Linked DNA regions of Homo sapiens. The protein of the gene in region 2 purifies or fractionates together with the protein of the main gene of each other region. This does not show direct contact. Each region holds a gene or a part of one and is shown on either strand. Other genes may lie near its edges. The genes, in order: KLHL8, RACGAP1 and FAM98A.

Region 1 (11,346 bases), on a different chromosome or scaffold from region 2:
CTACTGGGCTCAAGGGATCCTCCCACCTCAGCCTCCCAGATAGCTGGGACTATAGGTACATACCAACACCACTGGCTAATTTTTTTCTTTCTTTTTAATTTTAGTAGAGACACAGTCTTGCTGTGTTCTCCAGGCTGGTCTCGAACTCCTGGACTCAAGCTTCCTTTGTCTGGGCCTCCCAAAGTGCTGAGATTGCAGGCATGAACCGTGGTGCCCCGTCTCCAGTGTCAAATAACTCTATGGTCCAAGATGGCTACTAAAACTCAAGCCATCGCTTCCAGGAAGAAAGAAAAACGAGAGAGATACTTTAAAACTGGATTAGTTTCCTTTAAGCAGCCATCCCCAAAGTCCTGTGCAATAGTTGCACTTTTAGCTGGGCTTTCAGCCATCCTGCTAACAATATTGGAGTTCTCCTTCTAAAGAAGAAGGCAAAAAGATGCTGCTTAAGCAGCTAGTAGGGTCTGCCATGTTGCATTTATTTTCATATCAAAAAATAAACTTTTCAGATTGACTCTATTATGAGAATGTGAAGATGATATCAGAAAGGAAATATAATATATATTATTTATATATAATATATATTATTTATATATTATATATTATTTATATATAATATATATTACTTATATATAATATATATTATTTATATATAATATATATATTATTTATATATTATATATTATTTATATATAATATATATTATTTATATATAATATATATTATTTATATATAATATATATATTATTTATAAATAATATATATTATATATAATATATATTATATATAATATATATTATATATATAATATATATTATATATAAATAATATATATTATATATAAATAATATATATTATATATAAATAATATATATTATATATAAATAATATATATATTATATATAAATAATATATATTATATATAAGTAATATATATATTATTTATATAAGTAATATATATTATTTATATAAATAATATATATATTATTTATATATATAGAGAGAGAGAGAGAGCGAGAGAGAGACAGAGTCTTGCTCTGTTGCCCAGGCTGGAATGCAGTGGCGCGATCTCAGCTCACTGCAACCTCCGCCTCCTGGATTCACGCAACTCTTCTGCCTCAGCCCCCAAGTAGCTGGGACTACAGGCGTGCACCGCCATGCCCGGCTAATTTTTGTATTTTTAGTAGAGACAGGGTTTCACCATGTTGGCTAGGCTGGTCTTGAACTCCTGACCTCAACTGATCCACCCACCTTGGCTTCCCAAAGTGCTGGGATTACAGGCGTGAGCCATCGCGCCTGGCCTAATATAGAGCTATATCTTAATGAAAGAAGTACTTTTCACAGACATCGTACATTTGGAATACAAATTGCAATGGAAACACAATTACATTTGTTTCACTGTGCCAATTTCTACCATACATATGGATACAATTTTGCTCAGAAGTATGTGGCACATGTTTCAAAAATAGTTACTGAAAATCAAAGTTTCTCTAAATGTGTTTTTTTCTGGTAACTAAAGTCACAGTTCTTGAATGTGGTAGGGATGGAGGCAAATTGCTCTCATTCTGTCATTTCTCATATTGCTCCGGAGAGAATTCCACAGTTCCCCCACATATTCAGCCTGAGAATTCAACCCTATCTAGGCAGGTTCATGGGAAATGGAAACTGATTAGACTTGGGTATGATGGAGTAATAAAAATAAAATGCTAAAAATGAAAACAAAACAAAAAAACAACAACACCCGCATTTCAAAAGTCACCAGCACTAGTAATTTTCAAAAGAAATGATTTAGAGCACCAACAGAACTAGCAGTGGTCATAGCAAGGATGATGCTTTCTGTTTTAGCTTCACCCACAGACCCACCCCCAAACTACCTAAAATAGATATTCAGTGGAAACAATAACTGTGTGCCTGTAAAGATATCTTCAAGTAATGTCCTCTAACCCAGAGCTGCACCCCTACTCCTTTCATTCCAAGTTTTAACTCAAATTCTGTCTTATATAGATATTTTGGAGCCACCAGTGAGACTTGACTATTGTCCTTTAGGAAGCAACAGAGACCTTATGGCCCCAAACCCTAAAATATTTACTGCCTGGCCCTTGGCAGGAAGTAGTTACCGAATGGTTGTTTACTGAGCAAAGTTGATATGCATCCATTTATAGTCCAAGTATTTATTAAGCATCTATACATCAAGTACTATGCTGTTATTTTCTATTTAAGGAGATTTCAGACAAATGAAAGATATAGACAACTTCTTAAAATGCTCACTAAGTGCTACTTTAGGGGCAAAAATAAGTTGTAAGATGAGCATATATAGGAGGCAGTAACCCAAAACTGGAGAGGGGGGACTGTAACCAAGAAAGGTTTCCTAATTAAAAAGTTTTCTAAGTTAATACTAGATGATTAGAAAGAGTTCACCAGGCAAAGGGGTAGAAGGAACAGCAATTACAAAGACCCACAGAAAAATTGGGAACTTTAAATATTTCAGGGATGCTGGGTGCTGTGACTTGAGCCTTGTAATCCCAGCCACTCCGAAGGCTAAGGCGGGAAGCTAAGGCAGGAGGATCCCTCGAGGCCAGGAGTTCAAGACCAGCCGTGGCAACATAGCAAAATCCCCCCATCCCCGCACCCCACCAAACTCCACCCCATCCATCTCTTTAACAAAATAAAAACAAAAACAAAACAACAATATATATCAGAGAAATATATCAGAAAATGGTCAGCAAAGGTTTAGAGATACCTATGTCAGGCTGATTGCATGGTAGTGGATGGAAGAACTGTCATTAATTTATTAAAACAGCACAAGTTGAGCCACCAGCCTAAGGTCAGAAAACATAGCCATCCACATGTGTGTCTTAGGATAAAAGGCGGGAAATGATTGTTGAGGGAAGCTGAAGTGCCACAGTAAAGGCTGGTTTTGTAGGAGGGTGACAGGATAGGAGTCAAAGGATTGGGATGAAATGTAACTGCAAGCCAGTAACCCTGACCTGGACAGGAAGATAGTGGTCTTGCTGGCGGTGTTCAGGCTCTTTAAGTACGTTTCCATAGACAAAGAACCTTAGCAACTCTTCTGGGACCTGCTCTCTGGTTGCAAGCTTTGCCTCCCTAGCAAATGAAGATAAAATAACCTTCTTCATTAATCTTTCCAAATCCCTCGGCAAGCCACATCTGAAATTCTTTCCCTGCTCCCCGACTCCTTTAAGAGAAAGAAAAATTGTCTGGCTCTGTCATCCAGGGAATGAGCCACCATATCCAGCCCACATCTGAAATTCTTTTGATGGTTATAAAGCCTTTTATCCCAGGATTAAAGATAAAGACTTAAAATGCAAATGTTGGCCGGCGCGGTGGCTCATGCTTGTAATCCCAGCACTTTGGGAGGCCGAAACCCAGCTACTCAGGAGGCTGAGGCAGGAGAATCACTTGAACCTGGGAGACGGAGGTTGCAGTAAGCCAAGATCGTGCCATTGCACTCCAGCCTGGGTAACAAGGCGAGACTCCATCTCAAATTTAAAAAAAAAAAATGCAAATGTTGATTGGGGTTAAAATATTGCAATTTTTTTCTGACTAAAGTACAATCATAAAATGAACAAACAGCTATCAGATCCTTTCCAGTTTTAATTTATCGGACTTTGAGGGAAGGGAAGGAATTTCTTAGATCCTTACTTATTATAGGCTAGTCTTGCTTATTCTCAAATGGAGCTAGGGAGGAATGGGTAAAAACTAAGAAGACATTTCGTCCGATTTAGGAAATGTGTGTTTTGTTTTAGTTGAGGTATGTCTTATTTTGTAAGATACTGTATATATTTTTAAGTAATTATTTGAGAGCATTGTTACAGATATATCACTTTTTAGGGAAAGATTTTTTTTGCCCCAGTTTATAGCTATTTGGTTTAAAAATTTCATTTAATTTTCAGAATTTTTGCCAGACTCCTCTGCCCCAATAAAAGGCTCTAGATTAGGTGTATCTTAGGTGCTCCCCAAACCCCTGGCCACCCCATGCATACCTTTTCATTATTCACTGTTTAATTCTCTGTCTCCGAGTCTAGATCCTAAGTCTCCATGAGAGCAGGGACTATTCAATTTTGTCTACTGCGTATTTCCCAGTTCCTAGCTCAGTGTCTGGTGCTCAAAAAATGTTCTTCGATAAATAGATGATAATAATATTGAAATATTGTGTATATTTCTTTGATTTGTTAGTAACTACAAATAGTTTATTGTGTATATGTCAATTAGCAGAAGAAAAAGAGCAGTTGTGCTCTTTTTTATAAGCATTTTTAGGAGTTACTGTGCACCTTATTACAAGAAAAGTGGCCAGGAATGGTGGCTTACACCTGTAATCCCAGCACTTTGGGAGGCCAAGAAAGGCAGATCCCTTGTGACCAGGAGTTTGACAACCAGCCTGGGCAACATGGAGAAACCCCATCTCTACAAAACAAAACAAAACAAAACAAAACAAACAAAAAAATTAGCCAGGTGTGGTGGTGTGGGCCTGTAATTCCAGCTACTCGGGAGGTGGGAGAATCACCTGAGCCGGGGAAATCAAGATTACAGTGAGCCATGATTGTGCTACTCACTGCACTCTAGCCTAGGCAACAGAGTGAGACTCTGTCTCTAAAATAAAATAAATAAAATAAAATAAAAGCTTAGGCTATAAAAAACAAAATTTCTATTAACATGGTCTTACTAAATACATATTGTAGGCCGGGCGTGGTGGCTCATGCCTGTAATCCCAGCACTTTGGGAGGCTGAGGCGAGTGGATCACTTGAGGTCAGGTGTTCGAGACCAGCCTGGCCAACATGGTAAAACCCTGTCTCTACTAAAAATGCAAAAATTAGCCGGGCGTGGTGGCAGACACCTGTAATCCCAACTATTGCAGAGGCTGAGGCAGGAGAATCACTTGAACCTGGGAGGTGGAGGTTGCAGTGAGCTGAGATTGTGCCACTGCACTCCAGCCTGGGCGACAAGAGCAAAACTCCGTCTCAAAAAAATAAAATAAAATAAATAAATAAATAAAATACATATTGTGTTTTATGTTTAATAAAGGGAATACAGGGAAGCTTTCCCTTTTCCCTTGGAAGGTTCACTGAAAAATCAACTGTCAAATGGCAGACTAATAGGAAAAAAGACATACAAAATTTATTTTAATGTGCATAACACAGGGAGATTTCAGGAGAATGATTACCCAATGACTCAATGGGGTAGAGACGTTTATATACTCTTCTTTATGGGGGAAAGGGAGATTGGGGAAATGTGGCAACTTAAGGTATAGTAAAGGACTTTTAGGGGAAAATGGGGAACATACAATGGCCTGGGAAAAAGTGTGTTGAGCCCATACAGCAGACAATAGTTTGTGACAAAAGTCTGTCCAAGAGTGTTGACAGACTTCAGTCTTTCTTCCTCCAATATGAGTTAAGTAAATGAAAAATCAGGTAAGGCAAATATGTTCCTCTTTGGCAGGTCTAGTTTCTAGGCAGATAAGGGAAATTCAGAGAACGACATCATTTGGTGCTTTGGGAGAGACAAAGAATTGAGAGGCAGGAGGGGTAATGGGGAAGGTAAGAGACACCTTGAAGCTGCTTCCTCAGTTCAGCGCGGCAAAGCACCATATTTTGGGGTATCGATTTCTGAGTCCCAACAATTTTTACATCACGTTCCAGACACATTTTATGACTTTTCTTCACTGCATACTTCTTTAAAACTCATCTTACTCTATTTTTCTAAAGGTATTTGCATTAAATGTGCAAAATACTAATGCTCTAAAGAGGAATATTTTGAAATATTAAGAATTATTTATATTTCAATGTAAAAAATGTGATTTTTTTTCTAGAAATAAAATTTCAAATTCAAATAGTTGCTTTGGGGTTTTTATAGAAGATGCATATATATATACAGATATATATATGTTCATTTCTATTAAAATCAATGTGCTAATGTTCATATGTGTTAATATTAATAAAGGTCCTAGGATTAAATTTATTCTGAAATAGACTCCTAGGATTGTGAAAGTTTGAGGTTAGTCTGGCAAAAGACACATTTAGGGGAATATCTTTCTTTAAAAAAAATTTTGTTTTTTTGCTGTCTCTTGATCTCCCGCCTCACACATTCCACTTTATTGACATTATAGAAAAATTAATTCATTTCAACAGCACTTTTACTTGCATTGCTTTTTTTTTTTTTTTTTTTTTTTTTAGACGGAGTCTTGCTCTGTCGCCAGGCTGGAGTGCAATGGCACAATCTCAGCTCACTGCAACCTCCGACTCCCGGGTTCAAGCAATTCTCCTGCCTCAGCCTTGCGAATAGCTGGGATTGGTGGCACGCACAACCACGCCCAGCTAATTTTTGTATTTTTAGTACAGACGGAGTTTCACCATGTTGGCCAGGATGGTCTCGACTCCTGACCTCGTGATGCGCCCGCCTCAGCCTCCCAAAGTGCTGGGATTACAGGCGTGAGCCACCGCGCATGGCCACTTGCACTGCTTTTTAGCAGCGAGCTCTCAGGTCAATCAACTGCTTCCTTAGGTTTACAAACTGTGGGTGTGTATTTATAAACACAGTTGTTTTGTATATCCTTTGTAGAGCACGTGGTGAAAGTGACACAGGAATAAATGCAAACCTTTTTTTCCCCTTCTTTTTTCAAAGACATAAATCCCAGGAACACTCACAACCGCAGAAGGGGATTTGATGGACATACAAAGAAACTAAATTTTGTACCGCCGCAGAAGTGAAGCATGGATAAGCTCAAAGGTATTTAGGCAGTGTTTTATTTCAAGATTTGTTATGGGGACCTCCGCCACGCCCTGGTCCGCCTTCACCAGGCCGGGCAACACTGCCCAGTCCCTGAGACCCGGCCGCCCACTAGGGAGCCGCGGGGGCGAGGCCGTGGGGGTGGCCTCGGGGAGGAGGTCCCGAGAACCACACTTCCCAGAGTGCCGTGCGCAGCCCCGCCCAGCCCGCCCCGCCCCCAGAGGCCGCGGCTCGCGGGGGCTGAGGCGAGAGGACGCCAAGCGCCCGCCGGGGCTCCGCGGGGCCGCGCAGGAGAGCGCGCGTCCGCCGGGTGCTCGCGCGGGGTTGGTGAGGTTCCGCTGAGGGCGGCCGGGGCTCTGGGAGCGTGGTAACGTGGCTGCAACCTTAGCGACATCAGGAAGAACAGGGTCGAGGATCGAGGTAACGGGACGCTCGTCTCCCCTCAGTCCCCTCGTCTCCCCTCAGTCCCCTCTTCCTTTGTGCGGTGCCGTCCGCTCGCGCCGAGCCCTCCCTCACCCCAGCCCCCAAGTCGCAACACCGTCCCGTCTTGGGTCTCCGGTGTGCGGAGGAAATTCGAGCCCTCGTGCACCAACCGAAACTCCACAGCTGAGAGGGCTTGGGGCCCGGACAGCAGGAGATCCAGCCCCTGAGCAACCTTCCACGGCTTTTGTCGCCCCCATTGGCGGGAGGAGCAGGGTTATGCTCCCGGCTCCCGTAGGGGAGCTCCAGCCTCTGGCTCTGTCAGCCTCCCCGGCAGCTCCTTGACTCCTTCCTCCCAGTCTTTCGAAGAGGGGCCCAGGCAGGTGCTTCGCGGGGTCCAGGAAGAGGGCAGGCGCGGTGCGGCTGGCGCGGGTTCGGGGCCCCGGGAGGGCGGCCGGACGCCCCCTGGAGCCGCGGCCTGCGGGGGCGGGGCGAGTGGGCCACCTCCGGGCCACGCCGCGCGGGGACGAGGCGAGGAAGGCACTGCCTGTCCCCACTCGGGGGGCTTGCTGGCCGCCCTGGAGGTGCCTTCCCGGGAGCGGCGGTGTAGACCTTGTGGAGAGTGCCTCCTGATGTGGAACCAGGAACCGCAGCCTCTTTCTAGACGCTCAGCCGCCCGGTGGAGTTGTTACCGCCACGATGACAGCTCTTTACGCCTTCCACTCCGTGCTGGGTTCAGTTGGCTTGCTGTTTTCTTCAGAGAGAGCGATTTGGCTACATAGCTTGAATTTTCTACGTGTCTCGTGCTTTACTGGACTTGCACTGTTTTTCCCTCTTGGCAGTGTTTAATCGGGTGACTTTTCATAGAAAACGTTCAGTATTTTCATCTGTGTTAATGGCATAACTTTCTTCTTGACTCTGCCCTAAGCTAATGTTACCAGTTTAGAGGGATACTTTGGGAAAAGGTCCTTAGAACCTGGGTTGACATAAGTATTTTATCTGCTGGTTGCACGTTTTTTCCTTTGCATTGTTTTTCTCCTATACAAGATGGTAATTGTTGGACTCTTGGTGTTCTTTATTCTCTCTCTAGAAGGAAATCCTCTTCGCGCATCTTTCTCGTGTTCTGGCCCTGCGGTACTCTTGGGTACGCAGAGGACTGCTGCTAACAGTGCTGGCGCCTGGAACGCTGCTTGGAGATGGCGGTGGCATTAAGCTGCTGCTTTTCCTCAGACTTCCTCCTGGCACCCTTCTTAATTTGTCAAACTGACCCAGTTCAAACTTCAAACTTTTAGTCACTTTATTTATTTCGTCACTTTTTAAAAAAATTGCTTTCAAGATACCAAAATTGCGTAAGCCTAAATATAAAAAGAGGTGTCTCAGGGGCCGGGTGCAGTGGCTCACGCCTGTAATCCCAGCACTTTGGGAGATTGAGGCGGGGGGATCACTTGAGGTCAGGATTTTCGAGACCAGTCTGGCCAACATGGTGAAACCCCATCTCTACTAAAAATAACAAAAATTAGCTGAGCGTGGTGGCACATGCCTGTAGTCTCAGCTACTCGAGAGGCTAAGACAGGAGAATGGCTTGAACCCGGGAGGCGGAGGTTGCAGTGAACCGAGATCATGCCACTGCGCTCCAGCCTGGGCGACAGAGTGAGACTCCATCTCAAAAAAAGAAAAAAAAAGTCTAAGGATACTCTATTCAACTACATATGAGCACTTAGCTTCATCATTTTAATTTTTAAAGCTGCCAATTCTTTTAGCATTTGATAAGATTACTGATAATTGGTTAAGATGATATATTCTGTAATAATTGCACATTTTTTGACAAGAAACTCAGTTCACATTCAGTGAGGGTTATTTTTTAAAAACAGTATTTCTTCATTCATTAAGAAGAAAGTTAGGGCCGGGCGCGGTGGCTCACGCCTGTAATCCCAACACTTTGGGAGGCCGAGGCGGGCGGATCAAGAGGTCAGGAGATCAAGACCATCCTGGCCAACATGGTGAAACCCCATCTCTACTAAAAATACAAAAAAATTAGCTGGGCATGGTGGCGCATGCCTGTAGTCCCAGAGACACGAGAATCACTTGAACCTGGGAGGTGGAAGTGAGCTGAGATCACGCAGCTGCACTCCAGCCTGGCAATAGAACGAGACTCCATCTAAAAAAAAAAAAAAAGTTGGGTAAATTTTGATCCCACCTGCTATTTTGAAAAATGAATTTTCTTTTTTAGAGCAGTTGTAAGTTCACAACAAAACTGAGTGGAAGGTATAGAGATTTCCCATGTATCGCCTACCCCTACAGAGCCAAAATCTCTCATCAGAGTGGTACGTATATTACAATTGATGAACCTACATTGACATGTTATCACATCCACAGTTAGGATTCATTCTTGGTGTTAAACATTCTGTGGGTTTGGACAAATAACCCTTTTGTTTTTATCAAGAACTTTTGAGAGTTGTAGAGAACTGAAATGGATATTGTCATTTTAAAAAGATTAAAGAGACTATTGCAGACATCTTAAACATTAATTTCAGATAGTTTTTGTGTTTTATAAATTGAATGTTTAAATTTTTGGTTACTTATATTGGAATTCCCAAGAGTCACATTTATTTTTGTATATTAAGAACTAAAGGGCCCCACATGGTAGCTCACACCTGTAACTGCAATTTGGGAGGTCAAGGCAGGAGGATTGCTTGAGCCCAGGAGTTTGAGACCATCCTGGGCAACAAAGTGAGACCTTTCTCTATATTCCAAAAAAAAAAAAAAAAAAGAGGCCAGGCTCGGTGGCTCATGCTTGTAATCCTAGCACTTTCAGAAGCCAAAGCAGGCCAATTGCTTGATCCCAGGAGTTCCAGACCAGCCTGAACAACACGGCGAAACCCTGTGTCTACAAAAAAACAAACAAACGAACAAAAATTACCCAGATGTGGTGGTGTGCACCTGTGGTCCCAGCTACTCGGGAGACTGAGGTGGGAGGATCACCTGAGTCCAGGGAGGTCAAGGCTGCAGTGAGCCATGATTGCATCACTGCACTCCAGCCTGGGTGACAGAGTGAGACCCTATTTCCCCCCACCCCCAAAAAAAGCAAGAGATGAGGGAGGATAAATGTTTCATAAAATAACAAAATGTTGTTTTCAGTCGCTAAAATTCACTTGACTATGTCTTTTTTTTTTTTCTGAACAAAATGGTTTATATTAGCCAAAGAAACAAGAGGGAGTTGAGCATTTTAAATAAATTAATTTTTGTTTACTCATGTCAAGATATGTCTGCAATAAAAATGTCACCCATTAGTCTATTTTTAAAAATTCTGTTTTCTCTGTTTTGAGGAGCTTTTATGGAAGCACCAGACTATAATATTGTTCTGAGCTCACTTCTGGTACTACACAATTCTCTATTAGAATCCCAGATCTCCACTTATTGGCTGTGTGAGCATGGCAAGTAATTTTCTAAACCTCTTTCCTTAGCTGTGGAAGGGGGATAAAAATAATACGTACTTCTATTTTACCAGAATTGAGGATTATTTGGTGTTGTATGTGAAAACATTCTCTAAGCTATAATCAACTATAATATTCATTGATATTACTAGTCACATGCTGTATTTTAAAATGCTGCCAGTACAATTTATTTTCTGGTGGATATTGCTATATAGATACTGTCAGCTGCTTTTTTTTTAAATGGGTTGGTCATGCAAGAAAGTATATTGTTTGGTTTGGTTATGAATGATTTAGTTGGTTCTTATGAGTCAGAGAGAGAATTATGGAAGAGGGTTGGAGGGACCTTGGGAAATTTTCTACTTCATCTCTCTGACTCTTAACCTGAATCTGTTAGCGTGAGCATAAATGGTCTTCCAAGGGTCTGTGAACTCTGTATATTTATACTTTTCTGGGGAGAAATTAAATGAAAATTTATACTTTTCTGGGGAAAAATTAAATTAAAAGAGCATCATGACCTTGTTCCCACTAAAGGTTTAGGAAACCACTAGCTTCAATGATCTAGGCAGGTTTCTTTAGTAAAAATGTTAGAGATTATTTTTAAAATTAGTTTTTTGTGGAAAGGAAAGAGAAACAGGTTATATTGCGGAAAGGAAAGAGAACAGGCTATTTTTGAAGCACTGAGTATCTGTTTTTCTTCCAAAGCTAGAAGTTGATATTTATGATACACTACCTTCATATGAATAATAGTGC
Region 2 (10,048 bases):
AAATCAATTGCGCACCCTAAATGTCCTCTGACCAAAACTCACATTCCTTCTTCTATCTCTGCAAGCAATGAATTCACCCTCTTAAGGAAGGATAAGTTGTTAAACACCCAGTAATAAACTCAAATTGTTGCAGCTGAATCCAACCATGTAATGCTTGCCCAGTTAGATAAACATCAAACTAGGGAGTCTTACATAGATCAGGGAGAATAAAGGTAAATATCACAACTTAAAGATTCTGTTTATTAGCAAGTGCGATAGTAAAATTAAACTGCATTAAAAGAGAGGAATGTCAGAAAGGGTTAGGAGTAAGAGATGGACTGATGGCTACTCCAAAGCACTGGACCCCCTTCCACAGCCCTCACATTGAGGAGGTATAATTAAGAAGGCCCTGGAAAGTCAGGCTGTTCCGCAGGAAGTACTGTTAAAGAAGTTGAAGGTGGGTATATATTTCCCTTTGCTATTATCAGAATTATTTTCATGGCTAAGGTCTCTTGGCCTAGCCCAAAAACTGAGCAAATGGTTGCCAACATTTGACACACAGGACCATTTCCTTTTTCGTTAATGGACCATTGGTTCCTGCATAGGGTAGCCTTGCCTTCACTAATGTTACACAATCCATTTACTTCCTCTACATTAGTGACTGAAAATGCACCTTGGGGAGATACTACAGAACAGCAAATATGGAACCAGGCCAACGCTAGGATTGCAAAGACATAAGAAAAGAGGTAGCATCTAGGGCAGTTTTAAAAAACAAGGCCTAGCAGGCGTGTGTGAAAGGGGGTATGGGACCCATCCTCTGTCAATTTGCTGAGGCAGATGGGCCCTGCTGTGAAGCTGCCCCCTCCTGGGAAAAAAGCCAGTAGGTTGCCTCCTCTCTCCACAGTTACATATTAAGCCTACAACTGTTTACGTTCAATCTCAGATACATTCTGTTCACCAGCTTCAGAGTTCCAAGTGCAGGTGCCCTCAGTTAATCATCCCAGCTCACTCCAAAGTCACTTCCAGCAGTGAAGGATGTTCTAGGCAGTCAGCCAGCCAGAGGCAATTTTTTTTTTTATCTGCACCATTCTGGTCCCTAAAGACTTGTTTAAAAAGTTGTTGTTGTTGTTTTATTTTTTAAGTACAGTCACACACTACATAACGTTTTGATCAATAAGGGATCCCATATACAACAGTAGTCACATAAGATTATAATAACCATAGTTTTACTGTACCCTTTCTATGTTTAGATACATAAATACTTACCATGCGTTACAGCTGCCTACAGTGTTCAGAACAGTCACATGATGTACAGGTTTGTAGCCTAGGAGCAATAGGCTATACCATACAGCCTAGGTGTGTAGTAGGCCACACCATCCAGGTTAGTTTAAGGACACTCAGGTTCACACAACAATGAAATCACCTAATGAAGCACCTCTCAGAATGTATCCCTGTCATTATGCAACTCATGACTGTGGTTTCTTTAAACAAGACAACAGGCATAGGACAACTCTACAACTCCAGTTTGGACAAAGAGAGACTGGATGAGAAATGAAGAAACAAACTCCCGGTGGTGGTAAGCCTGGGGTGGGTCCAGAGAGTGGGAAATGGGGATGAACAACAGAGTCAAGACACTTTGAAGGAAGTAATTTTTTCTTTTTTTTTTTTTGTGACAGGGTCTCACACTCTGTCACCCAGGCTGGAGTGCAGTGGCACGATCTCAGCTCACTGCAACCTCTGCCTCCCAGGCTCAATTTTCCCACATTAGCTTCCCAAGTAGCTGGGACCACAGGTGTGCACCACCACGCCCAGTTAATTTTGTATTTTTTGTAGAGACAGAGTTTGGCCATATCTCAAACTCTTGACCTCAGGTGATCCACCTATCTTGGCCTCCCAAAGTGCTGGGATTAGAGGCATAAGCCACCAAGCCCAGCCCCAGAAATGATTTTCTAAAAGGCATTGAAAATTACCTTGCAAGACAAGAAAACCAGCCTCATGTTCATTTTGAAAAAGCTATTTACTTTTTTTCCAAATATTATCCCAAATAGGTGTTTTACAGATAAGGGTCAATACGAAGTCAAACATTCTACAGAAGAAAATCGTTTTTACAGACATTAAGAATAATTTTAACAGAAGAAAAAGCTCACATCTATCTAGATGTGGCTATGTTCCATGGGAAAAATTTCAGCATCCAAAGTGCAAAGAAAAAATGACTGTAGCTTTTCTTACCACAAAATATTGACAATCTTCCCTTATAGCCTACTCTTTATTGTTAGTTGGGATGCCAAAGGATGATATATTGACCTTTAGAAGTTGGGCTCCACTGGACAAGGTTGGGGGTATGGGGGCCAAGCATCAGAATGAATTCAATTTTAAAAGAAAAACTGGCTTTGACCCCAAATGAACCCAAAGTTCAGCCAGCAGCACATCAGAGATAAATACGAGTTGTACTTTCACATTTACAAGGTTGTGCCACTCAACACTATTAAAGACCTAATCATCCAAATCAAAGCTACGCATACTCCCATCACTAGTTCTGTCCTCAATGCATCCCATTTTTATGAAAGCTCCATATTATAGCTCAGTTCATAATGGGGAATGAGAACTTCTGGTTCTTAGAAGGAGGCATCCTAAATCCTCTGGTCTAATCCTTTCTTTGCCCTGCCCTCCCACTTCCCACCCTGAGACAAGCTAATCTTATCAGATAGGTAGGGTTTCTGTCATTGTCTCACGGAAATCAGTTCTAAATGAAACTAGAGAAAGATCATTCTATGAGCAGCATTTGGCTTTAAGCCAAAGGAACAATAACCCCCTTCCCCAAAAAGAATCACAACCAATTCCATACTAACCCTTCTACCCCTGGAAAGATGTCTCATCTAAAAGCTCCCAACAATGACCAGCACAAAGTGCTGATATTATGTGACTTGAGGAGAAGGAAGGGGAGATATATATAGTTTTAATAAAACCCTCATGCACAATTAAACTTGAGTAAAAGCCTGGAGAATGCTAAAAGTAGTAATGAGTACAGGAGGCTGCAGAGCAGAGTACAGATGTGTCCTTTCTTATAGTCAGTCAATGCTGGGAAGTAACAGGCAGATGTGACTTCACTTGAGCATTGGAGAAGCAAAAAAGTTGCCTTGTCGTCCTAGGTTAGTGGCAGACTTGCTTTTGCTCCCAAATCTACAATAAAAAGAGAATGAACTGGAAAAATATTCTATAAAAAATGGTTGAATAAACAACTATAATATTACTTGATATAACCCATTATAAGTAGGAAACCCTAGACAACTATTTTGCAATAGTTGCTTAAGTATTCTTAGTCACCAACAACGAGAGAGGGGAAATAGTAAAGACTTTCAGAACCTTTTTAAAGAAGGAATCCTTATAGCCCCACGTTCCCTTTTAAAGTCTAGTTGCTAGCTAAAATCGAATGCAATTTTTCTTTCAATAAGCTTCAATATAATAAGAAGTCTAAGAAAGTAGTTGTTTTTTATTTCCTAGGAAGGCCAATTCTGCATACCTAGGAGTGTTCTTGGTGAGGGTGGAACGGACTCTCTGTGACAGGGAACTAGATGAAGGAGTCTTGAGAAGCTGATGTTCAGGAGTGGTCACAGGTCCCAGTAAACTCACTTCAAAGTTCAGACATATTTTTAAGAGAGGTGGGAAAAAAGAAGGCATCTTTTTAGATGGCTAGTTTTAAGCTGATTACCCTCTGAAGCACTTAAGAGCTAAGGTTAGACATCTAGCAAAGTCCCAGAGATCATTTTTGTCATCATTCTGTAACACACTAGTGTATCTTTTGAACTCAATGAATAGCTGACACGTCCTGATTTAGGCCATTCTCTAACTCCACACTTCACAAATCTAACATCTAAACATCTGACTTTTAGCTATACTAGAAGAAGCAATATGCTCCCTTAGAAGGAACTTGCAATAATGAAAGAATGGGTCTCCAATGCCAGTGAGACTGGAGTGAAACCAGCCTATTCATATAAAATTGTTGGTTAGCAATATAAATTGGCAAAAGCCTATAAGAAATTTAATAAATCAAGTTGGTAAAACATACCAAGACACATAAAAATGTTCAAGCCATTTAATTCAGTGATCCCACTCTTAGGAATTTATCATTAAGAGAAATGCTATATTGACTATAGCATTACTTGTAATTATGAAAAATTGAAAAATAATGTTAATACCTACTAGAACATTTAAGTAAATGATAAATAAGATTATACATGAGAAAAAGTTCTCACAACATGCTAAGTGAAATAAGAATGAATTATATTTAAACTATTATATATATATATATATATATATTTTTTTTTTTTTTTTTTTTTTTTTTTTAGACAGAGTCTCACTCTGTCACCAGGCTGGAGTGCAGTGGCGGGATCTCAGCTCACTGCAAATTCCGCCTCCTGGGTTCCAGCAATTCCTTGTGCCTCAGCCGCCCTGGTAGCTGGGATTACAGGCATGCGCCACCACACCCAGCTAATTTTTGTATTTTTAGTAGAGATGGGGTTTCACCATGTTGGCCAGAATGGTCTCAATCCCCTGACCTTGTGATCCGTCCGCCTCAGCCTCCCTCCCAAAGTGCTGGGACTACAGGTGTGAGCCACCATGCCCAGCCTATTATATCTATATTTAAAAAACATATATCCATATGGATAAAGAAAGGAGAACATGGAAAAGCAAAAAAAAATTACGATGGTAGAATTATACAAATTTTCCTTTAATGTTAGAATTTTCAAACAGCTCTAGCAAAGGCAGGAAGAGGTCATATGACTAAAACTAAAGAGAGAGTCAAGTCCCTGAAGAAGCACATCTTGGGCCTTACCTTTAATATCTGGTGTCTGTGGTGTTGAAAAGGCATTTGAGTTTTCAATGACATGTAGGGGGTCAATGTTCTCTTGCTCCACCATCATGAACTGACTCCAATACTCCAGAGGCAAGGAAAGCAGGCGCTCAACCACCTAAAAGCCAGCAAATCTGTTAGCAAACTTCCAAAGCTCAGGGCTTCTCAACTGTCTTTCAAGTTATCACATTACACAAGTTCACATACACACACACACGCACCTGCCTACCTTGGGTTGACGCTTGATGTCCTGTAACATTGTCACTGGGTCTGGATTGGGCACAGCATGGGCCACTATTGTAGGGCCAAAGACTTTAGCCAGATTGGCAACATCCATTTTAGTATGTGGACTCTGAGCCACTCTAAGCAAAAGAATATTAAATTAGAAGTCTTGCTCCTTGCTTAAATGCAGACCAAAATATAAATTCTATAAGAAAACAATTCATCCCTCATACTCCCAAACACTCAACCCACATTATCTTCCCCTTGGAAAAAAATTCCCTAACTCCCAGAACAAGTTTCTGCTGTACTCACCTCTGCAAGTGAATCATGAGGAAAGCTAATGTGTCCCTGTTGGCCTGGGGCAGTTCACCAACAGCTTGGTACATGGCAGCTATGCTGTTGTCTTCATCTGTGATTTCTGTAATTGAAAAGAAAGCACCAAGAGGCCTAGACTTCTTTCCCTTGACAGCGGGCTTCCAAGTTATCGACCACAAAGTCTCATCTATACAGTAAGCTTCTGAAACTCCTGATTAGTTCATGACTACATCAGACTCTAGTTTCATTAACAAGCAGGATACTGGCCAACAGCTCAATATTAGAAGTCAAAACTTTTAAAAAATCGGCCTTTGCAGTTAGGGAAAGCAGTTGGCAACTGATGTGCTAGGCAGACAGGCATACAATTGCAGTGACTACAATTACCAAGAAGGTATTCATTCATGAGACATATTTAAGGGCCTACGATGTGCCAGGTACAAGTGCTGAGGATAAAGCAGAAGTAAACAAAGCCCTTATCTTATGGAACCTACATTCTATTGGTGGAGTCAGTCAAAAAGCAAATACCTATCAGGTAGAGTGATACATAAATGAAGAAAACAAGGCAGGCAAGAAGCTAGAAAGAAATGAGAGCTGTTAATCTAGACAAGGTTGTCAGGAAAGGTGTTTCTGGGGACAAGGTATATGAAGAGAAATATGAAAGAAATAAAGGAGCAAACCATACTGTATCTAATGTAAGAGCATTCAGGTTGAGACAACAAATGTGAAGGCCTTAAGGTAGGGAGTAAACTTGGTATATTCTAAGAATTGAAAAAGCTCCAACCTAACTGGAGAGGAAGGAAAGAAAGGAAGAACACTGTACACAATAACGTAATGAGAAAGCAAGAGGATAGGCAAGGGTGACACGCATACAGTTACTCATCCATCAAACTACTTGAGCACCTACTATGTTTCAGGCATTGTACTAGGCAGGAGCTAATAAAAAGAGGAAGGTGGCCAGGTGTGGTGGCTCATGCCTGTAATCCCAGCACTTTGGGAGGACAAGGTGGGTAGATCACCTGAGGTCAGGAGTTTGAGACCAGCCTGGCTAACATGGTATAACACCGTTAACGCCTGTAATCTCAGCTACTCAGGAGGCTGAGGCAGGAGAATCGCTTGAACCCAGGAGGCGGAGTTTGCAGTGAGCCGATAGCGCCACTGCACTCCAGCCTGGGCGACAGAGAAAGACTCCGTCTTAAAAAAAAAAAAAAAAGAGGCTGGGCACGGTGGCTCACGCCTGTAATCGCAGCACTTTGGGAGGCCGAGGCAGGCAAATCACAGGGCAGGAGATCGAGACCATCCTGGCTAACATGGTGAAACCCCATCTCTACTAAAGATAGAAAACATTAACCAGGCATGGTGGCACACGCCTGTAATCCTAGCTACTCAGGAGGCTGAGGCAGGAGAATCGCTTCAACCTGGGAGACGGAGGTTGCAGTGAGCTGAGATTGCGCCACTGACTTCAGCCTGGGCGAGAGTGAGACTCTGTCTAAAAAATAAAAAATAAATAAAAAAATAAAGAGAGTAAGAAAAACTACTGCCGTGGAGGAATTCATATTCAAGTATTACATCTGCCCTTACCTGCTGCTTCCATAAAGGCTCTGTTAAGGCGAAAGGTCAGAAGAGGTTCTTTGAGGTTTCGAAGAAAGTCTTTTAGAAGGCTACAGATAGCATGGATATCATCCACTTTGCTGAGGAGGGGTACAGTTTTCACTCTGAGGAATTTCTCTTTCAGCTCTTTTACTGTGCGGTCACAGCCAGAGATCCTATACAGGCCTGTCTATTATCAAGATGACATTTTTATTTAAAAACCTCCGAATTAACACAAATAACAAATTCACCATCTCCTACAGTTGACTCTTACCTCAGTCAGACCTCTTTGCTCAATCTCATTTACACAATGCACAACAATGGAGGGGATCATTGGAGAAGTCTGGGACACAAAGTCTGCCAGCATTCCCTGGAAAAAAAAAAGAGCTTTAAATTATTATTTACGCCATGTAGACCAACAGATGAAGACCACATGCGAAGAACCACCTCCAATCTTATTCTCAAACTGGGACATCATGTCTACTTTTACATTCCTATTCCCAAAGCATATATTAAAACAGAGACTCTCAATTATTTTTCCTACCTCCACACCAGGACTGATTTATTATCATATATACCACACTTTTTCTTTTTCATATATACACCACACTGTTATGTGAACAAGGAATAAGACCACCAGCTATAATTACCTCCTTCTCATCCACTCAAGGACAGCAGAAAACAAGCAATAATGAGGTTACAGGTATAGCCTTTAATATAAAATAATTTATTACTCTAAACAGATTTTTTTTTCTAACAGAAGAAAGCTGGAACAAGAGAAAAAAATTGTGTATACTTTCATTATTCTCAGTAAAAAAAATTATTTAACATATCTTATCAGTTGATTATGACACAAACCTACCTGTAGGGGAGAACTCCATGGTTCTATATTAGAGTACAGAACATGTGTAAAAAAAATGTACAGGCGGCCAGGTGCGGTAGCTCACGCCTGTAATCCCAGCACTGTAGGAGGCCGAGGTGGGCGGATCACCTGAGGTCAGGAGTTCGAGACCTGCCTGACTAACATGGAGAAACCCTGTCTCTACTAAAAATACAAAATTAGCCAGGCATGGTGGCGCATGCCTGTAATCCCAGCTATGAGGGAGGCTGAGGCAGGAGAATCGCTTGAACCCAGGAGGTGGAGGTTGTGGTGAGTCGAGATTGCGCCATTGCACTCCAGCCTGGGCAACAAGAACAAAACTCCCTCTCAAAAACAAAACAAAACAAAACAAAACAAAACAAAATGTACAGGCATGGATAAGAACTTGTAAGATCAGGGGAAAATAATATTTGATTTGCTGAAGAGTAGGTAGGAAGATAGTCATTTTGATTCTTGCTAATGTTACTTACATAATAATTTTTTTTTTTTTTGAGATAGGGTCTTGCTCTATTCCCCAGGCTGGAGTGCAGTGGTGTGATCACAGCTCACTGCAGTTTCAACCTCCCCACCTCAAGCAATAGTCCAACCTAGCCTCCTGAGGAGCTACAAACACAGGCGCACACCACTAACCTGGCTAACTTATTTATTTATTCTTTGTAGAGATGGAGTCTTGCTTTGTTGTCCAGGCTGGTCTCAAACTCTTGGGCTCAAGTGATTTTCCTGCCTCAGCCTCCCAAAGTGCTGGGATTACAGGCATGAGCTACCACACTCAGCAATAAATAATTTCTTAATGGATTTAATCAGTTTGGATTAAACTGGTTAAATATTTGGAAATAAGCAACTTCATTTTGATAACCTATTATGAAGTATGTCTAACATAAGAGCAAGAATAAAAGATAATTTTATCACAGATAAAATTATATGATAGCTGAGATTTGCTTCCAAGTAATTCATTGGACAGAGTCAGGAGGAGGCAACGACAGTATTGATAAATCAAGAACAGACATAAAGGCTGGGTGCCATGGCTCACACCTAGAATCCCAACACTTTAGGAGGCCGAGGCAGGCGGATCACTTGAGGTCAGGAGTTCAAGACCAGCCTGGCCAACATGGCAAAACCCCGTCTCTACTAAAAATACAAAAAAATTAGTTGAGCATGGTGGCACATGGCTGTAGTCCCAGCAACTTGGGAGGCTGAGGCATGAGAATCACTTGAGCCCAGGAGACAGAGGCTGCAGTGAGCCAAAGTTGCAACACTGCAATCCAGCCTGGACAACAGGGAAACTCTGTCTCAAAAAAAAGAGAGACATTAAAAAAAGAATGGACATGACCAGGCGCGGTGGCTCACGCCTGTAGTCTCAGCACTTTGAGAGGCTGAGGTGGGCGGATCACTTGAGGTCAGGAGCTTGAGACCACCCTGGCCAACATGATGAAACCCCATCTCTACTAAAAAATACAACCAAAAAAAATTAGCCGGGCATGGTGGTGGTACATGCCTGTAATTCCAGGTACTTGGGAGGCTGAGGCAAGAAAATCGCTTGAGCCCAGGGGGGCGGAGGTTGCAGTGAGCTGACATCCTGCCAGTGCACTCCAGCCTAGGCAATAGAGCTAAAAAAAAAAAAAAAAAAAAAAAAAAAAAAAAAAAAAAAATGGACACAAGTTAGTAATCATGGAAGTTAAGTGATAAGAACCAGGGGTTAGTTATACTAATTTCTCTAGTTTTATATATGTCTGAAATTTTCCAAAATGGGATGAAGGGGAGGAAGGAAGGAAGAAGAGGCAAGGAGAAGCAGGGAAGAGCAAGAAGGAAAAAGGGGCGGGGAAAGAAGTTTGGTTTAGAAAGGTATTAGACAGACAAACCCAAACAGGACTCTTCTACAAGTAAGTATCTTACAATTCTAGTCATTATTTGTGGAAAGAAATATATTTGAGATGATTAATTTTAGAACAAAAACTGACACTAAGCCTTTGAAAGGCGAATAAAGAGGCCATAAAACAATGACGGCTTGCATAAGTCATACCTCTCCAATCTTGACAGGTGTTCCTATCAGGGTAGGAATGCAGGGAAGGGGACAGCGGTCCCGACATTCTGGATGAGAGACCACACGACAGTCTCGACACTTCAGAGATAATTTGCCAAATTTTATCCGCTTTCCACATGGAACACAGGATTCAGGTTTAATAACCTGGGATAAAACAGGGCAGAAGGAACAG
Region 3 (10,355 bases), on a different chromosome or scaffold from region 2:
TTCAATAGCAGTATACTCAGCTGATTCTTCCTTTATAGCATTGCTTATCCTTTACCAATATTTGGCACTTAGAATATGTTATCTACATAGGAAGATAATAGCTGTGTGGAATGCTTACTAATGACCCTGAATAGCTAATTCTTCCAAAGAGCTCAGAGTTTGGCCTTTTTAGCACTGATACTTATACAAACCACTTGAATGTAAGTATAAAATGCCTTTCACACTTTTCTGTTTCTTAAGCAGACTTCAGTGAACATTATTTTGGACTCAGGGTCATAATTCTAGACTTTATTTTAATCTGCTATCATCACCTCAAATGCTTTTCAAGAATATACCACTATTTGCTCTTCAATTAAATGACTAAATCATCTAGAGGTCACTCACTTTTTATATTCTTCATACATACATATATACACACTGTTTCCCTCTTTATCTTTGCTTCTGCCGATTCTCCCTTTCTAAAATATTCTCCCCAGTTTGTAACCTCTCTTTCATTCTAGCATTTACCTACATGTACTCATTTTTGACTTGGTCTATGTAAATATTTCTCATCTTTTGAAGTATCAGTTGTCACATCTGGATGCTATAATTTTACTTTTCCAGCACCCTTACCTCACTAACTTGAATCTTTTATCACATTGTATTTTAGGGGGGAAAACAAACCAGCCTCATTAGAATTGTTGGAAAAATAGAATAGCCTTTGAGTGAGAGGCTGAAAAGCTCTCATGTATCAGATTAAGGACTCTGTTTGGCTCTTCATTGGCCTTTTATGGTTCTCAGAGTGTTGCCCTTACGTAAATTAAGTAAGATGTCTGAGTTCCTAATAGATGAAGAACTATTCATCTTTTATTTTTGCATATACTCTTTATTCCTAACTAGATTATCGGAAGAGGTCATCTTTTTGATGTTTTAAAAAATGTTATCTTCAGTGCCTTTCCCAGTGCTTTGAACATACTGATTACGATTAAAGTTTTTTCATGATAATTATATTGGTAACCTAATTTTGTGAATACCTGAACTATGTTATCCCAAATTTACAGAACCAATATATTAAATCATATAGTATATGATTTTCTAGAACAAGAGTTGGCAAACTTTTTCTAAAAGGGCCAGATAGTAAATATTTTTGGCTTTGTGGCCCTAAGTTCTCTGTCACAACTACATACCTTTGCTGTTACAGCATGAAAGCAGCCATAGACAATATATAAATGAGTGAGTGTGGCAGTGTCCTAATGAAACCTTATGTACAAAAACAGTGGTTGTTGTCTTAACAGTGGGGTTTTACTGTTTTGACGTTTTAACTCATAAATACAGTTTGCTGTATGGAACATGTTAAGATTTTACAGTGTCAAATCCATTTAGAATGACCTTTCCAGAAACTTAGCTGTATTTATTGTTTTAGAACAGGAGTTGGCAGCCTTTCAGAAATGATTTGCCAAAATTATGGCCTCTGTCCTTCTAGCATTACATTTTGGGTATAGGAAATTTGATACACAAGTTGACTTTTTTCTACTTCTAATAGGACCTGAGGGCCTTGAAAATATCTTTTCCCAAAACTGGTTTTGTTATATTGTCAGAAGAATCTCACTTTGTCACATAACCAGAAATCCTAAGATTCAAATGATTCTTAATCATCTTTTATAAAAATTGAAATGTCCTTGGGAATGTTAAAGGAATGAGATTGAATATTTATACCTTCAACTGAATTACCTGAAACAGATTGCAGCCCCCATTATACCAGGCTGAAATCAGCACACAAGGGGATGATACTGACACAAAGGGAACCATGCCAAAAAGTGCTTTGAAGGTTTTATGGTTGTTTTGAAGGGAATGGGGTGAGGAAAGTAGGGGGAAGGGAGTCCTGAGAAGAATATAGATGAAAGAGGGCTCTCTTTGATTAGCCAGAGGGCAACATAAGATTTGGAGACCATGGGAAAGGAGCTCTGGGGTGCCTTCCTGCTTCTCCTGTGAGTTAAGCTTTGACTTCTTATAAATGTTGTTTCACACCTCTTCTGGACAGGCTCCTAATTAATGGGAGACAAGAGAGCAAGGTAGTTGTGTCATTGATGCTCACAAGTAGTGAGAAGTTAAAAAAAAAAAATTAATTGTCATTAAAAATTGGTCACCTGCCTTCTTTTGCAAAATTTTTAACAGATGCCAACCCCTGTTCTGGAGGTTCCTTAATACCAGAATTCAAGATTCCAAATTTTTAGATGTTACTTACCTCGATCCTTCGGTTTCAAAGAGAATCGCTTATTTTAAAATTAACATTTAAACATTATATATCGCTTAAATAACTGAATTACATAACCAGTTTATTTCTTATTTCATTTGCAGGTAAAAGTAGTTTTTCTTTCTTGTTTTTATCCATTCTTGCAGCTTTAACAGTTACATATCAATAGGTCTATATAGTTGTGACTCCAGACTTATGACTATAACTATAGCTGTATCTCATTTTGAAATCTTATTTTGTTTACTTCAGCATACCTCATCTCAGAACTAGAAGCTGCCAGAATGCTCTGTGTGAATGCTCCTCCAAAAAAAGCTCAAGAAGGAGGCGGTAGTGAGGTCTTTCAAGAGTTGAAAGGCATATGTATTGCTCTAGGAATGTCCAAACCTCCAGCCAATATAACTATGTTCCAATTCTTCAGCGGGATTGAAAAAAAAGTAAGACCTTTAGTACCAAATTGTAGTGTATTAAAGGCATAGTCCTACATTTGTTTGAAATGAAGCAATTAATTTAATTTCTCTTAATGGGAACCTAATGTGCATATATTATTAAGTAATTGTTACGAAATGAGTTTTGGGTTTTAAATCCTAGATGCCTTAAAGATAAATTAGTATTTTAGTATTTTCCTAAAAACATGTTAGCATGTTTCTTTTTCAAAAAGGAAACTTTACACTGGTTTGTAAGCTAAAGTAAGCTAGATATAATGTAAAAAGGATTAAGATTTCAGTCCTTTTAAAAATTATTTTATCATTGAACTTTGATACAGTCAATTTAAGTTCTTTATCACTAAATGTTACCACCCTCCTCCCCATTGACTGGACAGAAAGGATATTAATATTTTTGTTTTTTAATCCAGTCACTTCAAACCTCATGCTTCAATTGACAAAATAGATTTGTTGACTGCTAACATAATCTAGTATGTGAAAAGAAATTAGAATTATTTTTATACCACACATTATCAGTTAAGATTTTCTATATAATTAATTAGGAACAAGCAATTTTAACAAAAATGAGTAGAAGAGAACGGTATTTGTTAAAGCACAGTTATTCCCTATACGCTTATCTGCTGGACTCTTAAGAATTGGTACATTTGCATTGTGGGGTAGACCAGCACCATGATGCACAAATTTGGCTGAACTCTACAGGGGAGCAGCAGTGTATCCATAGTCCATATTTTCCTGTGTGTTCATTCATCCATTCAGCAAATGTTCATTGAGTGCCTACTGTTGTCAGGCACTGTTCTAGGTGCAATGAAGGACTTCTGTAGGCGTGAGGAGTGGGACCAGTGAGTGTCTTTATCTTGTGGGTCTTTTACATTTGCATTTCAAAACATCCTCCACCTTTGCCTCTGTCAGGAATCTTCTTTTGATGGCAAGATATGATGGGAATTGGGAAGATGAGGATGTTTTACTTTTAGAGTTTTTATTCATTTATTTATGTTTTTGTGTCAGTTAAAGGAAACATTAGCAAAAGTTCCACCTAATCATGTGGGAAAGCCTTTACTGAAGAAGCCAATGGGACCAGCCCACTGGGTGAGTAGTAATCATCTTGAGTAAACTTTGTAAAGAACTATAGAGTTTATGATTTTCATGTCAACACTTACATTTTGTGCTTTTTAAATTATGTTTTCTTATACATAGTTTTCTAGTTGAACACCCTTAGAATCATTTTGTGAATCTCAGGATTTCTGCAGAATATTTTTATTTGTGTAAGATTAGAAGCACTTTTCTCATACTTTGTAAATATTTCACACAGCTGATAAAAGTAAACTGAAATTAAGTATGGTGCATGTTTCTCGTTGCCAAATGGATTGCCTTCAAGCCAAAAACTTCACTGGGCTGAGCTTCACACAGTAAATTATGGGAAAGATAAATAAGAATTGTGTACTTCACATACTCTTCATTATGTTTTGTGAATCAGCTTTTTGTCACCTATCATTTCATTAATTGTTAGTATATTATATGGAATAAGAACTTTTGACTGTTAAATGGCCGGGATCTCAGTTATGAATGACACAGACGTAGTTTTTGCCCTTTTGGGACAGAGAATCAAGCAGATTTAAACTCTAACTAGTCTTTTTAATTTTGCTTCAGGAAAAGATAGAAGCAATTAACCAAGCCATAGCCAATGAATATGAAGTCCGGAGAAAGCTGCTAATAAAACGTTTGGATGTCACTGTACAATCCTTTGGCTGGTCTGACAGAGCTAAGGTACACATTAAATAATTTAAAAGAGCAGACTATTTATAGACATGATCCCTGAACATCTAAACAATTTAGCTACTTGGCAACTATGGGAGAAGTACATAGAAGACACACATAGGGATTTTTCCTTAGTGAGTTATTGAGTAGTGGCTCTTTCAACTATTCAGCAATGATGAAAACATTTATTTTTCAATTTTCTATTTTTTAACAAATCTGAATTTTACAGTTCTTATTGGAGAGAGAAGTTCTTATTATGAGAGAAATGGAGTTATTCTGAAAATTACTAAAATAATAAATTGATTTCAAATTACTTGTTTACTTTAAATAATTTAATTTGCTAATAGAAGTTAGAAATATTGGATTTGGTATGATTTATAGACAATTGGAGAATTTGGTAAGACTTAAGTTTTTTTTCAGCTAAATGAGACAATCCAGGTAAAGACCTTGGTCATTCAGCAGATAGTTATTACCTCATAGAAACCAAAGATAGGAAAATTAAAAAGCAAAATTGTTGAAATAGCTTTATATTCTTATATTTAAATAGAGAAAATGAGTATGTTTGATCTGAGACCAATGATGGGGGAACCTTTTTATCACGTTGGCCTCATAACCCTAAAGGGGCACCCTCTCACTCCACCCCTGCCCCCACAGTCCCTGTCACTCCTTGTTGTGTCAACAAGTCTGGCAGCTGTACTTTTAAGGTAGTTCTTGACTATGTAGGAGCAGTAGTGAGTATATAACTTTTCCTACCATCTAGAGCCTAGTAAATATCATTATCAGATATTTTGGAGACCTTTAACTTATTTAATATGTGTTTCTTATGTCATTTTGAAAATTGACATTTCTCTTTGAACACTTTTCTTTCAACAGAGCCAGACAGAAAAATTAGCCAAGGTTTACCAGCCGAAACGTTCAGTCTTATCCCCTAAAACTACTATTTCTGTTGCCCATCTTTTGGCTGCAAGGCAGGACTTGTCAAAGATTTTAAGGACAAGCAGCGGCTCTATAAGAGAAAAGACTGCCTGTGCCATCAATAAGGTGATTAGAGTACCTTTAATTTTTTCCAAATGCATTTATTTCTGTTCATAAAATAAAAGTTTAAAATATCTTTCCTATTCTGTAGGTGTTGATGGGCAGGGTGCCTGACAGAGGTGGTAGACCCAATGAAATCGAACCTCCACCCCCAGAGATGCCACCGTGGCAGAAGAGGCAAGATGGCCCCCAGCAGCAAACAGGAGGCCGAGGAGGAGGGAGAGGTGGCTATGAACATTCCTCATACGGAGGACGAGGAGGTCATGAACAAGGAGGCGGGAGAGGTGGACGTGGTGGCTATGACCATGGTGGCCGAGGGGGAGGAAGAGGAAATAAGCATCAAGGAGGCTGGACAGATGGAGGGAGTGGTGGAGGAGGTGGCTACCAAGATGGTGGTTATCGAGATTCAGGTTTCCAGCCAGGTGGCTATCATGGTGGCCACAGCAGTGGTGGCTATCAAGGCGGAGGTTATGGTGGCTTCCAAACATCTTCTTCATATACAGGAAGTGGATACCAGGGTGGTGGCTACCAGCAGGACAATAGATACCAAGATGGCGGGCACCATGGTGATCGTGGTGGTGGTCGTGGTGGGCGAGGTGGTCGTGGAGGCCGAGGTGGTCGTGCAGGCCAGGGAGGAGGCTGGGGAGGAAGAGGGAGCCAGAATTATCACCAAGGGGGTCAATTTGAACAGCATTTCCAGCATGGAGGTTATCAGTATAATCATTCTGGATTTGGACAGGGAAGACATTACACTAGTTGAGGCTACCGAACCTTACATTTTGCTAGAGCTCAAGTAATAGAAACTTAGTTTCAGAATCCTGAATTCAGCACCTATTTTGAATTAATGTGAGACCACAGGTGGCAGGCAGATTCCTGCTTGGCATAAGCATTTGTAGGTCTTCATTCAATTCTGTTAGATTTTTTTATTGGACTTACATAATGCCGTTTATTTGAGAAACACATAACATCTCTCCTTTCTATGAAAAATTTTTTAAAAGGTGGTTAAAATTGCCTTTAATTGCCCAGTAGACTAATTCCACAGTCAGAACATGCAAACTTTTTTGAAGAAATTACTTGAATAAGTAGTTTTCATGTTTTCAATATGCAGTTTTGAAAATGAGGATTCACCTAGACTTTTTTAGATTTACTACTAGGAAACCTTCCTCATATGAATAACCATTTATATGTGTTTTGCTTAAAGTATTCCAATGCCTATTTTCCAAGCACAGTTCTGCCCCCCGGTTGACTTTTATGCCACGTGTGCTTCATGATGGAACTTTTAGGTCAGTTCCTATTAAATGAGCTCTTTTGCAGATAGCACATTCAGTAGCCTTATTTTGTTGATGGAATACTGTATCATATGCTCAACTCTGAAAACCTTGAACACGGCCAAAATCCATAAAGATTATAAAAGCAAACTAAGTTGTGAAGCTATAGTACATGTAGGCATTTAGTTAAGTATAGCAATTCAAACTGACCTGCATCCATCCAAAACAAATTCCTCCTTCAACCTTATTTTTACTTGAAATTTGCTAGAAGAAATAGCAAACCGAAATTTGTTTTATGCATGAGTTAATACCACTGGCTCAGCAAATACAAGTTAGTTTGCTTTAAGCAGGTAACTTTTTTTGTAATGGAAGAAATGCACTACAAAGTTAAGACAGATTTTTGCTAAGTGCAGGAGGCCCTTTATTATTGCTGCAGAAAACAAAAGCCTGGCTGAGTTGATGTTTTACATTCTCCCTTACTGAAATCTACATGACATGATGCTTCTTGCTGGGTTTTTGTACATGTAAACATTGTCAAGCTGTGAAAGAAAATGGCTGGAGGTGTGCTTTGTGTGAAAGGTGAGCAATAAAGTATCTGTTAAGTTCTCTCTTTGGTTTGAGTTTTATTTTAGCTACTGAATTATTCTGGACTCTTGCGTCAAGCTGATGAGCTAAGGCTTTTGTTCCCAAAGATTCTTGAGTATTTCCTTAAAACCTAATTTTAGTGAAAGGTGACTTTTATCCTAAAACCTTAAATAAATGGAAAAATGGCTCTTTCCAGGTTTTCCTTTTATAATAATATAGCTAGAAACCGTCACCACTCATCTCTGGCCACTGGGTGTAGCTGTTGCTACACATACTAGGCAAAAATGTTTTTAGGGTTTTTTTGTTATTTGCTTCTCCATTCTTCCTAAGATTGGGGGACTTTTTTTAAAAAAGGAAGTAACTGAAAATATAAATATGTTTATCAAAAGAGAAATTGTATTTCCTTTCTACTAAATTGGGCTTTTTTAAAGAATCAACTCATGTCATGCCATTTAAAATAATCTACTTGCTACTGAGATAAGCACATTCTTCTAATACTAAAACCATCTTTGAAAACCCACATTGATCCTTTTAACTTTACCTGTTTATTTTTCAGCTAACATTTACAATTATTTTAAAATGTTCAAATTTGAAGACAATTTCAAGTGTTTTATCATTAAAGTAAGTTAAGGTTTTAAGTTGTCTTGAATGTTGTGTTGGTTTCTTTAAACTGTTAAGTAATTATGTTTATATAGGATTTCCTATTAAAATTGTCAAGGTTTCATATTTTAAATGTATCATATCTTAGGATGTATTTATATTTAGTATTTGCTTTGATCTGTTTTGTAGCCTCAGACTCCACAATATAGCTAATGAATACAGGTTTCATTCTTTTGAAAAATATTTTGATTTATCTTTACGGTTAATAGATTGCTTTTTCGAATATAAGGATGTAAGAACACAAATGATACATTTCGCCCTGATAGTTCTGAAATCTGCAGCTCCTGCTTCAAACTAGATTTTCCCCCAACATTATTATTTTTTAAAAAACTTCTATGTTCAGGGGTACATGTGAAGGTTTGTTATACAGGTAAACTTGTGTCACAGCGGTTTGTTGTACAGACTATTTCATCATCCAGGTATTAAGCCCAACACCCGAAGGTTATCTTTTCTGTTCCTCTAGTTCCTCCCACCCTCCACCCTCAAGTAGACCCCTATCTGTTGTTTCCCTCTTTTGTGTTCATGCGTCTTCATCATTTAGCTCCCACTTATAAGTGAGAATATGTGGTATTTGGTTTTCTGTTCCTGTGTCAGTTTGCTAAGGATAATGGCCTCCAGTTCCAGCCTTGTTCCTGCAAAAGACAGGATCTCATTCTTTTTTATGGCTATATGGTATTTTATGGTGTGTACATGTACCACATTTTCTTTATCCAGTTGGTCATTGATGGGCATTTAGGTTGATTCCGTGTCTTTCCTATTGTGAATAGTGCTGCAGTGAATATATGCGTGCATGTGTCTTTATGGTAGAGTGATTTATATTCCTCTGGATGTATACCCAGTAATGGGATTGCTGGGCCGAATGGTAGTTCTGCTTTTAGCTCTTTGAAGAATCGCCATACTGATTTCCACAATGGTTGAACTAATTTGCACTCCCACCAACAGTGTATAAGTGTTCCCTTTTCTCTGGAACCTTACCAGCGTTTGCTGTTCCTCCCCCGCCTCTCCCCATTCTGAAACCATAAAAGAATTGAGTTTTTTCTCTTGAACATAGATCAAGTTCTCTAGAAACAGGATATTTCAAACCACCAGTTAGTTTTATTGTTATATTAAAGTTCTTAGGTTTTGTATAGAGAGTATCTTTTGATCTTATATGCATTCTTAACCTTAACTTGTAAATAATGATTTACTGGAATATAGGGCATATGAGAATTTCTTGGAGAAACAAGCGAAAAATATTAGGAGAGAATTTTTAACATGATATCTTAAACTGTTATCTCTTAAAACGGATACAGTGAGACAGACAGTACCTTTAGTTAATGTTCTGTTTCCTCCTACTACTAGGAACTAGAATAGGATGTCAGTATTCTCTATGAAAACTATTAAAGATATACCACTATCATTTTTATTTCTTGCTGTAGATCCAAACTAATCTAGTGTCCAACTGTGGTAGACATAGAATAGGCAAATTCTTGCTGAGGGAAGGCATTTGAATCATTTCTATATATACTTAATTGATTTCCCAGTGCCCAGATTACCTCCATCCTTAGACTTAAATATTTTTAGGTTGTGCCCATTGTATCTTTCTGGATACTTTGTCTACCTATATTACATCCTTTTGAAAATAGTTTTTAAATATGTTTATATTATTTAATCATACCCCCGCCTCCCACTTTAGGTAATTTGGATAGCATTTGATCCATTTGTTTTTTAACAGAGAGGGTTACCTAAATAAAATTTAGGTATTTATTTGTATTTTACCTAAATAAAAAAATGAGTTTACCTGAATGAAAAAGTACATTCATCACAGAATACTTAGCATTTTATGACTTCTTATTTTCCTGTTTTTCTTGTTTTTCTCATTCTTCATTATCATAGTAATAACTAGAAATGCTTTTTTTTTCCCTGTGGTTTCCATATTTGTATACACTAATGTATTCCTAGGGTTCAAATCACTGATTCAAACAGGTATGCATGTCAGTGTTTGAACTCACTTTCCGCTTGCACAATTTTAGTCACCTGCAGATGTGCGGTTATAAGTTGGAGTAAACATAACTGTTGGTATGAGAACTTCCACAGTAAATCATTCCCTGCCCACTAAATGTAATAAAGAGGCCGGGGGCAGAAATAGATAGGGAAGAAAAAAAAAATGTTTCCTAGGAATTTGGGTCGGGGAGAAAAAAACCTCTTAAAATGATTGGTATTTGTTAAATTGAGTTATAATTTTTTCAAGAAGAAAAAAGGCCTGGCCAGGCACGGTGACTCAGCCTGTAGTCCCAGCACTTTGGGAGGCCAAGGTGGGCGGATCATCTGAGGTCGGGAGTTCAAGACCAGCCTGGCCAACATGGTGAAACCCCGTCTCTACTAAAAATGCAAAAC

Evidence for each region.
Region 1: the proteins of RACGAP1 (region 2) and KLHL8 purify together in Homo sapiens (affinity purification with mass spectrometry; 2 studies listed by BioGRID and IntAct, with this or other methods). This does not show direct contact.
Region 3: the proteins of RACGAP1 (region 2) and FAM98A purify together in Homo sapiens (co-immunoprecipitation; 3 studies listed by BioGRID and IntAct, with this or other methods). This does not show direct contact.

Annotation. Positions count from the first base shown.
Region 1 is NC_000004.12:87,216,234-87,227,579, reverse strand, and holds the start of KLHL8 (kelch-like protein 8), read left to right. Parts: upstream 1-6,961; 5' UTR 6,962-7,162; intron 7,163-7,311; exon of another isoform or gene 7,312-7,545; intron 7,546-9,392; exon of another isoform or gene 9,393-9,486; intron 9,487-11,346. UniProt on the Homo sapiens protein: Substrate-specific adapter of a BCR (BTB-CUL3-RBX1) E3 ubiquitin ligase complex required for The BCR(KLHL8) ubiquitin ligase complex mediates ubiquitination and degradation of RAPSN.
Region 2 is NC_000012.12:49,987,185-49,997,232, forward strand, and holds the end of RACGAP1 (rac GTPase-activating protein 1), read right to left. Parts: intron 10,021-10,048; coding exon 9,856-10,020; intron 7,326-9,855; coding exon 7,230-7,325; intron 7,146-7,229; coding exon 6,947-7,145; intron 5,472-6,946; coding exon 5,366-5,471; intron 5,194-5,365; coding exon 5,061-5,193; intron 4,950-5,060; coding exon 4,814-4,949; intron 3,609-4,813; coding exon 3,500-3,608; intron 3,160-3,499; coding exon 3,084-3,159; 3' UTR 1,978-3,083; downstream 1-1,977.
Region 3 is NC_000002.12:33,580,647-33,591,001, reverse strand, and holds the end of FAM98A (protein FAM98A), read left to right. Parts: intron 1-2,482; coding exon 2,483-2,667; intron 2,668-3,681; coding exon 3,682-3,762; intron 3,763-4,323; coding exon 4,324-4,440; intron 4,441-5,304; coding exon 5,305-5,472; intron 5,473-5,557; coding exon 5,558-6,226; 3' UTR 6,227-7,342; downstream 7,343-10,355. UniProt on the Homo sapiens protein: Positively stimulates PRMT1-induced protein arginine methylation. Involved in skeletal homeostasis. Positively regulates lysosome peripheral distribution and ruffled border formation in osteoclasts.